Linked DNA regions of Homo sapiens: region 2 is linked to region 1. Evidence: fine-mapped expression QTL. A gene starts in region 1. The other region holds a variant in brackets. All regions are shown on one strand. Distances are from middle to middle. Region 1 holds the start of MBTPS1 (membrane bound transcription factor peptidase, site 1). Region 2 overlaps MBTPS1 (membrane bound transcription factor peptidase, site 1).

The links. PIP is the estimated chance that this variant, and not a neighbour inherited with it, causes the effect.
Region 2: its variant is fine-mapped to the expression of MBTPS1 in blood mononuclear cells (TOPMed, PIP above 0.99).

What each region holds. Positions count from the first base shown.
Region 1 is chr16:84,114,599-84,119,598 of GRCh38, forward strand. MBTPS1 (membrane bound transcription factor peptidase, site 1) reads right to left here and starts at 2,344. Exons shown (of 23, transcript NM_003791.4): 1 at 2,137-2,344. MBTPS1-DT (MBTPS1 divergent transcript) reads left to right here and starts at 2,445. Exons shown (of 1, transcript NR_186375.1): 1 at 2,445-4,565. It also overlaps the pseudogene LOC648774. RefSeq lists silencers at 1,835-2,264, 2,665-2,764 and an enhancer at 2,915-3,074.
Region 2 is chr16:84,054,704-84,059,703 of GRCh38, forward strand. MBTPS1 (membrane bound transcription factor peptidase, site 1) reads right to left here. Exons shown (of 23, transcript NM_003791.4): 21 at 4,599-4,725; 22 at 1,302-1,432. Among named protein-coding and RNA genes, the nearest start is that of SLC38A8, 14 kb to the left of the region's middle. RefSeq lists enhancers at 537-1,130, 1,131-1,723. The variant G/A (reference allele first, on the strand shown) is at 2,861.

The sequences.
Region 1 (5,000 bases):
CGCGGGCGGATCATGAGGTCAAGGAGTCTGAAACCAGCCTGACCAACATGGTAAAAACCCGTCTCTACTAAAAATACAAAAATTAGCCGGGTGTGGTGGCGGGCACCTGCAGTCCCGGCTACTCGGGAGGCTGAGGCAGGAGAATCGCTTGAACCCGGGAGGCAGAAGTTGCAGTGAGCCGAGATCCACCACTGCACTCCAGCCTGGGCGACAGAGCGAGACTCTGTCTCAAAAAAATAAAAATAAATAAAGCGTTTCCTCAAGCAGAATTCCGCAGCACTGATGGCAGCAATGTACAGTTCACCTTAGCCTTCAGTCTTCCAAGTTTTTTTTTGTTTTTTGTTTTTTGAGACATAGTCTCACTCTGTCGCCCAGGCTGGAATGCAGCGGCGTGATCTTGGCTCACTACAACCTCTGCCGCCTGGGTTCAAGGGATTCTCCTGCCTCAGCCTCCCGAGTAGCTGGGATTACAGGCGCCTGCCATTGCGCCCAGCTAATTTTTGTATTTTCAGTAGAGACGGGATTTCACCACGTTGGCCAGGCTGGTCTTGAACACCTGACCTTGTGATCCGCCCGCCTCGGCCTCCCAAATTGTGGGATTACAGGCGTGAGCCACCGCGCCCGGCCCAGCCTTCCTAGTTCTTGTTAACCTCCTGACTAGAAGAGCTCCCACTTCTTCCCTAGGTGCTTCAAAGGTTCCGCAAGCTCTGCATTGGAATTTTCCCTTTTTATATAGAAAGGACCAACTCTTGATTATACGGGGTGCCTGGGGAGTGCAGTCGTTTGACACGTGTCTGGGTCAGGTCCCAGCTCCCATTCTCAATCAACAGTTTTGCTGTCATCCGCATCACACATTAGAGCATAAAATAAACTTTTATTTGTCAAAAGTGTTCTGCATAAATGCTTAAACAAAATGTGGTATAGCCATACAACTGAATATTATTTGGTCATAAAAGGAATGAAATCCTGATTCATGCTACAACATGGATGAACTGTGAAAACATGCTAAGTGAAAGAAGCCTGACACAAAAGGCCGCATATCATATGTTTCCATCTGAATATACGAAATAGTCATTAAAGGCAAATCTAGAAAGACAAAGTAGATGAAAGGTTGCCTGTGGCGGGGCCTGGAAATGGGCATTGACTACAACTGGGCATCAGAGGTCTTGGGGTAACGGAAATGTTCTAAAAGTGGATTTGGTAGTGGCTGTGCTGCTGTAAATTTACTAAAAACCACTGAATAGTACACTTAAAACAGGTGGATTTTATGGTATGTAAATTCTACTTCAATGAAGCTCTTACATTAAAAAATAAGTATAAATAATAAAAGCGGATTCTCCAGATTGAAAAAAAAAAAAATGAGAGGAATTACTTCTCTTCTGCAAGCCCTCCTTTTCGTAGACATACAATTGGAGACCTTGACGTTAGGAGGGCTTACCTACACAGTTCAGACTAAAGGATGAGTCTCCAGAATTCAACGCAGGTCGTATTCCACTCCACGTAATTTCGAAGTGTCAATCAGAATCTAATAACTTAATTTGTGTAGACAAATAGGCCAAGATTCTCAGGGGCTCAACCCAATATGAAAGGTAAACATCTTAATAAAAATACTGACGATCCACAACGGTCTTAGGTAGCGCAACCATGCCAAGGCGAGGCAAGATTTTTAAGAAGCTACAGGTTTAAAAGGCAATCTGGTTCTGAGAGTTCGCCGAACAGAATCCCCGCATTTCCAAAAACCAGCAGCGCAATATGCACAGACCGAGATAAGGCAAAGAATCGACGTCTTTTAAACCTGACGCCAGCACTGCCCCGGAAGCGCACCTAGAATTGAGTCTGTCTGGAGGCTCCGGGCCAGAGCAGGGCGTATTGTTTCACTCGGTGAATGCTCATTTCACGTAAAGAAAACCAGGCAACGGAACAAGCTGCCGGAGCGCGCAGACCCCCGCAGGGCCGCGGTACAGGCACGCTGTGTCCAAACAAGCGCCGGAGGCCCCGCGCCCACCTCCCCCGACCCGGCCCGGCCCCCGCAGCCCTCGCCTCGGGGCCTCGGACGCAACCGGCACACCTGAGCGAGCGGGCCGCCGCCGCTAGGCGGAGCGGGTCGGGGAGGCCGCGCGCGGGCGGCTGACGTACCTGCGCCGCCGGGAGCTCAGGGCCGGCGGGCCCGGGATAACGGCGCCTCCGCGGCGAACACGCCTGGGCACTCCATTCGGGGCTGTTTACTCCCAACTCTCGCGAGACTGGGCGACCGGGCCAGCGAGGCCCACAGCTGGGAGCCTCAGCTCCGCCGACCCAGCGTGCCCTGTCTGTCCCGCGCTCCCGGGGCTTGCGTGCGCGCTCTGGACGCCGTGGGCAGCGGGACCACGCCGGGAGGATGGACGAAGGTCTCGCGACATTTGCGGCGGCGGGGGCCGGTGGCAGGGTGGAAGCGGAGGGGCGTGGCCAGCGAGCTGCCAGGCGGCGAGAACGCGCTGGGGGAACCCTTGGTCCGCTCTGCGCGTCGCTCTAGGATCCCCGAAAAGGAGCACGGGCGCGAAAGCGGCCAGGCTGGGCCAGGATCTAGAAAGACTGCCTGGCGCAGGCTCCCTGCCCCCGCGGGCCTGCTGTCATGGACTCGTGGAGAGCTCGCTTCCCGCGCGGACCCTTCCTGCAGGGGTCCACGTCCAGGCACCGGCGGCTCGGACACCCCACCCCCGGCCGGGCACCTGCCCTGGGTGCCCCTTAACCCGGGCGGTAGCTCGTTAAGATGGCGAAGTGTCCGGTCCGGAACACGCGAAACCCCAAATCCCGCCTGCCCGACCTCCTGACCCCCGGCCCCACGGGACGACAGACTGGGCCTCCCGACGCGCAGCGCGCTGCCGGGACACCGGTGCGTGCGAAACGGAGGACCTTTGTAACGCCACGTGTTTGCTCTTTTTGAAAAAACAAGAATAAATGTGTTAAACTGTCTGAAAAGCTTGCCGCCTAAAAGATGTCTGGGTGACTTAGATGCTAGGATCAGTTTGTTTTCAATGTAAATGGACCAGCCCGGACTCCGTACGGCACTAGCAGGGGACTGAAAGCGTCTTCAGGTACTGCTGGTGGGCGGTGATGCGCTACAGGCCGATCAGACAGTTTTGTGTCTTTTGGAACTTGACACTGCACCACGGTAATGCTGAACTGCACCAATATTACAGATCACAGCGCATCATCTTCCTTCAACATGATTTAACACAGTTGACTTAATATGGTGGATAAATGTAGAATCACAAATTACCATACCCCACCTCAGGCTTCTACTTCGTAATTTTGAGCAGGTTGTTTAACCTCTTTGTACCTCAGCTTCTTCATTACAAAAATAGGGGTACTAGCCAGGCGGGGTGGCTCGCGCCTGTAATCCCAGCACTTGGGGAGGCCGAGGCAGCCGGATCACTTGAGGTCAGAAGTTTCAGACCAGCCTGGTCAACATGGGTGAAACGCCGGCTCTACCAAAAATATAAAAACTTAGCTGAGTGTGGTAGCGCATGACTGTAATCCCAGCAACTCAGGAGGCTGAGGCAGAGAATCGCTTGAACCTGGGAGGCGGAGGTTGCAGTGAGCTGAGATCGTACCACTGCACTCCAGCTTGGGCGACAGAGCGAGACTCTGCCTTAAAAATAAATAAATAATTTTTTTAAAAAATAGGGGTACTAATATCTACCTTAAAGGATGAGGGTTAAATTAAGTACACACATAAGCCCTAGCGCAGTGGCTTATGCCTGTAATCTCAACACTTTGGGAGTCTGTGGCGGGAGGATCACTTGAGCCCAGGAGTTTGAGACTAGTCTGGGCAACAGAGACATGTCTCTATAGTTGTGTTTGGTTTTGTTTTTACCAGGTGTGGTGGTGTGCACCTGCAGTCCCAGCTACTAGGGAGGCTGAGGTGGGAGGACTGCCTGAGCCCAGGAGGTCGAGGCTGCAGTGAGCCATGATTGTGCCACTGCACTCCAGCCTGGGCAACACAGCAAGACCTTGTCTCAAAAACAAACAAAAAGCATACTCATAAAGTGCTCGGCTCCTATATGATTCAATATGTGGTGGTGGATTCTTGAATCCTTTCCTGACTCAGATCTCATACGATTTTCTGAACTTTTGGAGAATCCTTGCCTCTCTGCATTTGCAAACCGTCAAAGGCACTCCCTTCTGCCACCACACAAAGCATTTGATTTTAAACTTGACTATGTCCTTCTGTTCCAACTTTAGGTAAATTAATCTTGGTCAGGGTTCTCTGAACAGCCCTTTAGTCACTATGCCATTGAATACATGGCCCTACAGCTGGAAACTGGGGTAGAACAGTGATTGCAGGCATCCATCATGTGACAGCGAGGCCCCAAAGAAGGGGAGAGAATGCCACCACCACCAGTTTCAGAGAATGCCTATACACTGAGGGGACTGGTGTGTGGGAGAGAAGTTACTTGGAGAGCTACCAAGACAGCCTGAGCTACAGGATCCTGGTCTACCACTGGTGGATTCCCACCACTCTGGTTCTAAAATAACTTCCTAAACTTGTGCTTCACATACAGAATAAAGCATCTGTAATTCCATGGGAAGGTAAATCTTTATTCAAATGAAATGTTATTTTAAAGAGTAATAGCTGATGGCACAGGCACTAGCCAACCCTGGGAAAGCCTCCCTGGAGTTGTGGCTCCTGGAGTCCCAGCAGCCACTCTGCAGAGATCTTGGAGGTCCTAGTAAACCTGCCGGTGGCACTACAGGCAGGCTGCTTTTTTGGCAAGGGTGGCTTTGCTGAGAGCATCAAAATCTTGGAGGCAAACACCAAGGAGGTGTTCTCGGGCAAGATCGCACCTGAGTCACTGCTGCTCAATCCGCACCCAGAGGAGACGTCCCTGGAGACGTCTCCAGCCTCTCGCTATACTCACTGCAGCCTCGCCCACCAGCACATCTCAGGTGTCAGTGGCTTTTTCAAGGACAACTTCATGCTCCTGGTGCTGGAGCTCTGCCACCTGAGACCTCTCATG
Region 2 (5,000 bases), 60 kb before region 1:
TTTTCTATGACGGCTGGATTCATCAGAAACTAAATGCGAGCTAATTTCACTAGCTGGGCTTGCAGGGCATACATCATTTTTAAGCCTTAGCTAAAGTAACCCAGGCTATTAATAAAGAGTGGATGAGAGCAAAGAGCAGCCACTTCCTGTGGGGTGGAGGCTCGGTGGATCTCTGCTGCCCTTCCTCCCTGGGATCCCCGCAGACGGATGATCAGGCCCAGCTATGCTTCTGTCACAACCTACCGAAGGGAGGCCCAGAGGCGCTCTGTGTTTCTCTAAACACAAGGGAAGATGGGCACGTCTCTATCCAGGGGAGAAGGAGGGGCCTGTGGTTCCAGCTGAGTGGGAGGAGGAGAAAGGGGGCGTGGCGGAAGAAGCACCGCTGGCAGTGCCCCGCCTCTGGGAAAGCCCTTCATGGAGGGGACGTGTGGCTGAAAGCCAGGAGAGGCCATCAGAGGACCCTGGTTCAGAATGTCAATACGACTGGGCAAGGCCAAGGGCTCTGGAATTTACCTTCAGCGCACCCCGTGACCTATGCGCAAGGCCCTCAGGACCCTGGCACCACCACGTGGTGTCCAGGGCTGGACTGCACAGACAGGGGTGCCCCTTCCTGATCCCATTTCTGGACAATTCCTGGAACCCAGAGAAACTCCTCTTGGTAGCTATAAACTCTTTGGAAGAGTACAGGGGACTCTAGAGCAAAAGAACTGCCCAGGCTCGGCTGGAAAGGCCTGGTACCAATTGCCTTGGGTAGTGGAGAAGAACCTGCCCTAGGCAGTCTATGTAGCCAGTCAGGATCCCTGGAGAGACAGACAGGATGAGACCACCTAAGGGACACACCCCAGCTCAGTCAAGTCCCTCCCAGGGGGGCAGGGCAGAGAACTGAAGGGGCCTTCTGGGCTGAGGGCTGGGAGCCAGGGCGGCTGCTGCCATTGGCTGGGACCCAAACCAGCAGACAGGCATCCTGTAAGGGACGTTAATAGGTGGCTGGCAGAACTTTCATAAAGAGCGTGCAAGTTACTTTGAACATGTTTAAGTAGATCACCCAGCCGTTGTAAAATAAATTCAAATGTGAAAATCTAGGTAGCATTTTCTAAGGGAAACAACAATCTCTTAATCTGTCAGGCCTGCCCTTGCTCATGCTGGTTTGTGCCACAAAAGAAGCCAAGAGCCAAGGCCACCACAGCTCCCAGGAAGGCAGAGACAGGGAGAGTCTGGCCCGCCTCCTGGGGAGGGAGGGAGACTCCTTTGAACAAAATACAGGATGACTGAGCACAATCACAAAGCAGCCGAGAACTCACCTCCAGGAATGTCCCAGGCGCCGCTCTCTCCAGGGGACAAGGGCCTCACTTGAGGGCGATTCGATCGAAAGTTGGGTAACACCACCTTGTCCAGGTCAATGGAGAGTAGCTTCTGATGTTTCCAAAGGTTACTTCAGGAAAATGGATTAAAACAAAACAAAAATAAGCCATTGTACTAGTCTAGGTACTAGTCTAGGAAGTTCAACTGAAACTCAAGACAGAGCAAGTGATCTACGGGGAGATGTGAAATGCCATTTGCGTCCACGGCCACCTAAATGCCACTGACAGCAACTATGGTGGCCGTTTCCACGTCCCGAGGGAGAAAGATCAAAATCAAGTCCCTGTTCATGAGATTCTACTGAGTTTACAATATGACCAGCAGGAGCCTGTTTTTGCATAAAGCTAAACATGACCAAGCGCCTCGGGAGGACACTCCAAGCGAGGCCCTGGAAGGAGCCTGTCAGGGGGAGGAGCTGAAGCCTGCTGAGTGGACCTGAGCCTGGGGCTATCGAGGTCCTCTCCCTAAGGCCTGGAGCAGTCGGAGGCAATGGTGATTCCAGAACCACTGCATATAAGGAAGTGGGCAAACTGGTGCCGGGAACCAGACAGCATCTTTGTCTCTGAAGAAACCACTGTCTCCAGGGAGAATACGAAACATACAAGGAACCAACAGTGGGAGAGAGTCTGAGCAGCAAAACGTGGGGTCCCCATCTGCCTTGCCTGCAGGCGGGGGACGATCAAATGAACGTGTGCGATTCCTGCACTCTGTGGTGCACAGTATCATTATTAACTCTGGGATCTGAAAAACTCGTTCAGGCCAATACAACTTAGACCCGAAGAAGACAGAGAGGTTGATACGCTGGCAACAGCAGCACAGAGCTTGGGAGGACACCGGAGCTAGAGCGAAGAGCGCGATGGGAAAAACACTACTCTGGCTTAAGTGAGGGGGAAGAATACAGTAAGTTTGCAAATTAAAATTTCTCTATTTTTCTGTTATTTATTCATTTGGAAACTGTCAGCCTGTCTCTTTCACTTTGGGCAAGTGAAAGCAAAGACGTCCAGTCCTATCAGCAATTAGGCTGAAAGTCAACGCCAAGCTGGCGGGCAAGGGCTGGTCTGAGTAGAGGTTCCCTAGGCAGGCAAGAGAGAGACTCCCACTCGATACTCCCAGCTCGGCAACTGCCTGAATGCCAATGAGCACTCATTATAACCCGCCCTATTTTATAGGATTTAATTTTACACTTCAGGCTTAATCAGTCTGAAAGTTAAACTGACAGTGTTAAGTTACGGAATCAATGACATTTAGGCTTTATGACTTTGTAGCTGAATATCTATGGGCTATATTTCCATTCTAACAGTGATATCCTGTTCCAGAATCTCATTCTTTGGTGATGGCACTTTCTAGTGGAGCAGTCATGGTAACAGTCCACACCCATTACCATGTGGGTGCTTTACAGCATACTGACGGAAGGACTGAGGAGCCACCGGAGCAGGAGTTCCTCTCAGGGAGGACGCTGACACTTCCACAGCTGCCCTAGGTATGGGCACCTGATGCCAAC[G/A]AAGAAGCCCAAAGCGCCTCTCCACTTCACAGATGGAAGCCTGCCCCCAGCACTGGGCTGACAGCATCTGGAGCTGTCTCCTGGTCTCAAATCTCTTTTGGAGACTCAGAATATGCGTCGATCTAGGTCTCTGGGGACCGAGAATAATTTTCAACAAGATATGAAAAGCAAGATAAATGTAAAACCCAGCAGCGTACTGAGAAGAAGGAATTACTGAGTGATTGTGAAAATCAAATTCCAGGAGCTGTCCATTATCAACATGCTGGATGGGCCGGTTCAGTATGTGATGGATTATTTGATGTGAACAGGTAGATAGCCAAGGATAGAAAGGATATTGTTATCTGCTTCAAGTCCTGAACAACACTGTGGAGAATAATTGGGTTTCTGGAAATTCAGCTAACACTGTTCACTGAGTATGAATTGCTGACCATGGCTGGAATATAAATGCTGGTTTGAATGCTAGGCTAATAGAAGGTTATAAATAAATAAGATGCAAAAATGGAAACTTATCAGAAATGTTTAAATGATGAGATGTGAACTGGAATGGAAAAGTACCCAGTGATTAAGGTTCAGGAAGAAAGCTACTGATGAGACAATGTGATGATTCTACCATTTTCCTGTGTTCTATTAAGCATATTCGAAATGAAGACATACGGTCAGTGCGTGGTGTGTTCAGCACTTTCGGTTTATGATGAGGAGTAAAGGCGGAAGGCAGCCTCGCCACCTTCACACGGGCACTCTCCTCTTCGCCTTACAGGACGGAAGGTGGCCTCCGTCCCTGGCCCCATACCATCACTGGAGGAAAAGAAGGCAGGCAGGGGGCCTGTCAAGAGGGTAGCCTCCTGCCTGAGGGGCTGGGGAGAGGGGCCGGGTACCAGGCGGCCAGGGGGCCTCGGAGGGCAAGACTCCTGCTTGATGGGGTGGGAGGTGTGCCTGCCCGGCCACGGACACAGCTCTGACAGCTGTCCCTGGCTTCATCCCCTTTCTCAGGAGAAGCTCCCCCTTTCTTCTTATATTGTCCTGTTTGGGCCAGGGACGTCACAGAAAAAGTAAGGGGGTGGCATCTGGAGAAAAAGGGGACCAGCCATGCCGAGCTGGTCCTAGCCACAGAGGGAAACAGCAGGTCCACCTCAAACACTGGGTACGGAAAGGAAACGATGCAAATGAAGAAGCCGAGTTAGTGAGCTGGAGAAGGGATCCAGGCGGCACTGCAAACAGGAGTGTGGAGACAGCAGCAGAGGTCACAGCCTGCCATCGGAGGCGGGTGCTTTCACCCCCAGTCACAGTCAGCACAGGACGTAATGACACAGAAGCATGCTCTTCTTGGACAGGCTGCAACCGCGGCCCCCGGGGATGACAGAAGAAGGGAACTATCTGTATCTTATCATCAATGTCTGAAACAGGGAACACACTGCAGCCGGCAGCTCTTAACTCCCCAACCACAGGACTTAGAGCTCCAGCTCCCATGAAATCACTCTGTTGGATCCCAGCTTTTTAAAAAAGAATTAACCAAATGTAACAAAATGCTAATTATCCAAAGCACTTTTTATGCAGGATACCACCAAAGAGCCTATTTCCAAAGGCCAATACGAGGTTCACTAAATAACTGTCGCAAATGACAAGCTTGAAGATCTGACAATTCGATAGTGATGTCAGTAAAATTCCATTCTCTCCTATAAGAAAAGCAATGACTCACAAGCCCCGTGGAAAGAGTGGAAGGGCACAGGCGGACACTAACCTGGGCGCCGTCTCGTTTAAAGGCTGTGGCTTGGCCCAAGACAAGCGTGGACAGGCTGGTAGAGGCCGAGGTTTTGGGTCTCCCAAATGGGCCTCCAGAACCTTGGAGTACCGATGAAGATGGTTTCCTGTGGTTAGCAGCAACATCAACAAAAAGGAAAATCATCTCTATTACTAAAATGCAAAGGAAAAAGGAGGGCCTTATTATGAGTCTGTCTGCTTTCCCACAACACAGCACAGAGCCCCTGTGCTCTATTAAGCTATCCTCCATGAGCCGCAGGAGCCACGCCTGATTGGTTCCTCCCGGACAATGTGTGTTTCCATTGCTGAAGGTGGGTGAGAAAATCAGAACCGTTCCCTTGAAGATGGGCAGATGTGTGCACAGCACTGGCTGGTCAAACTT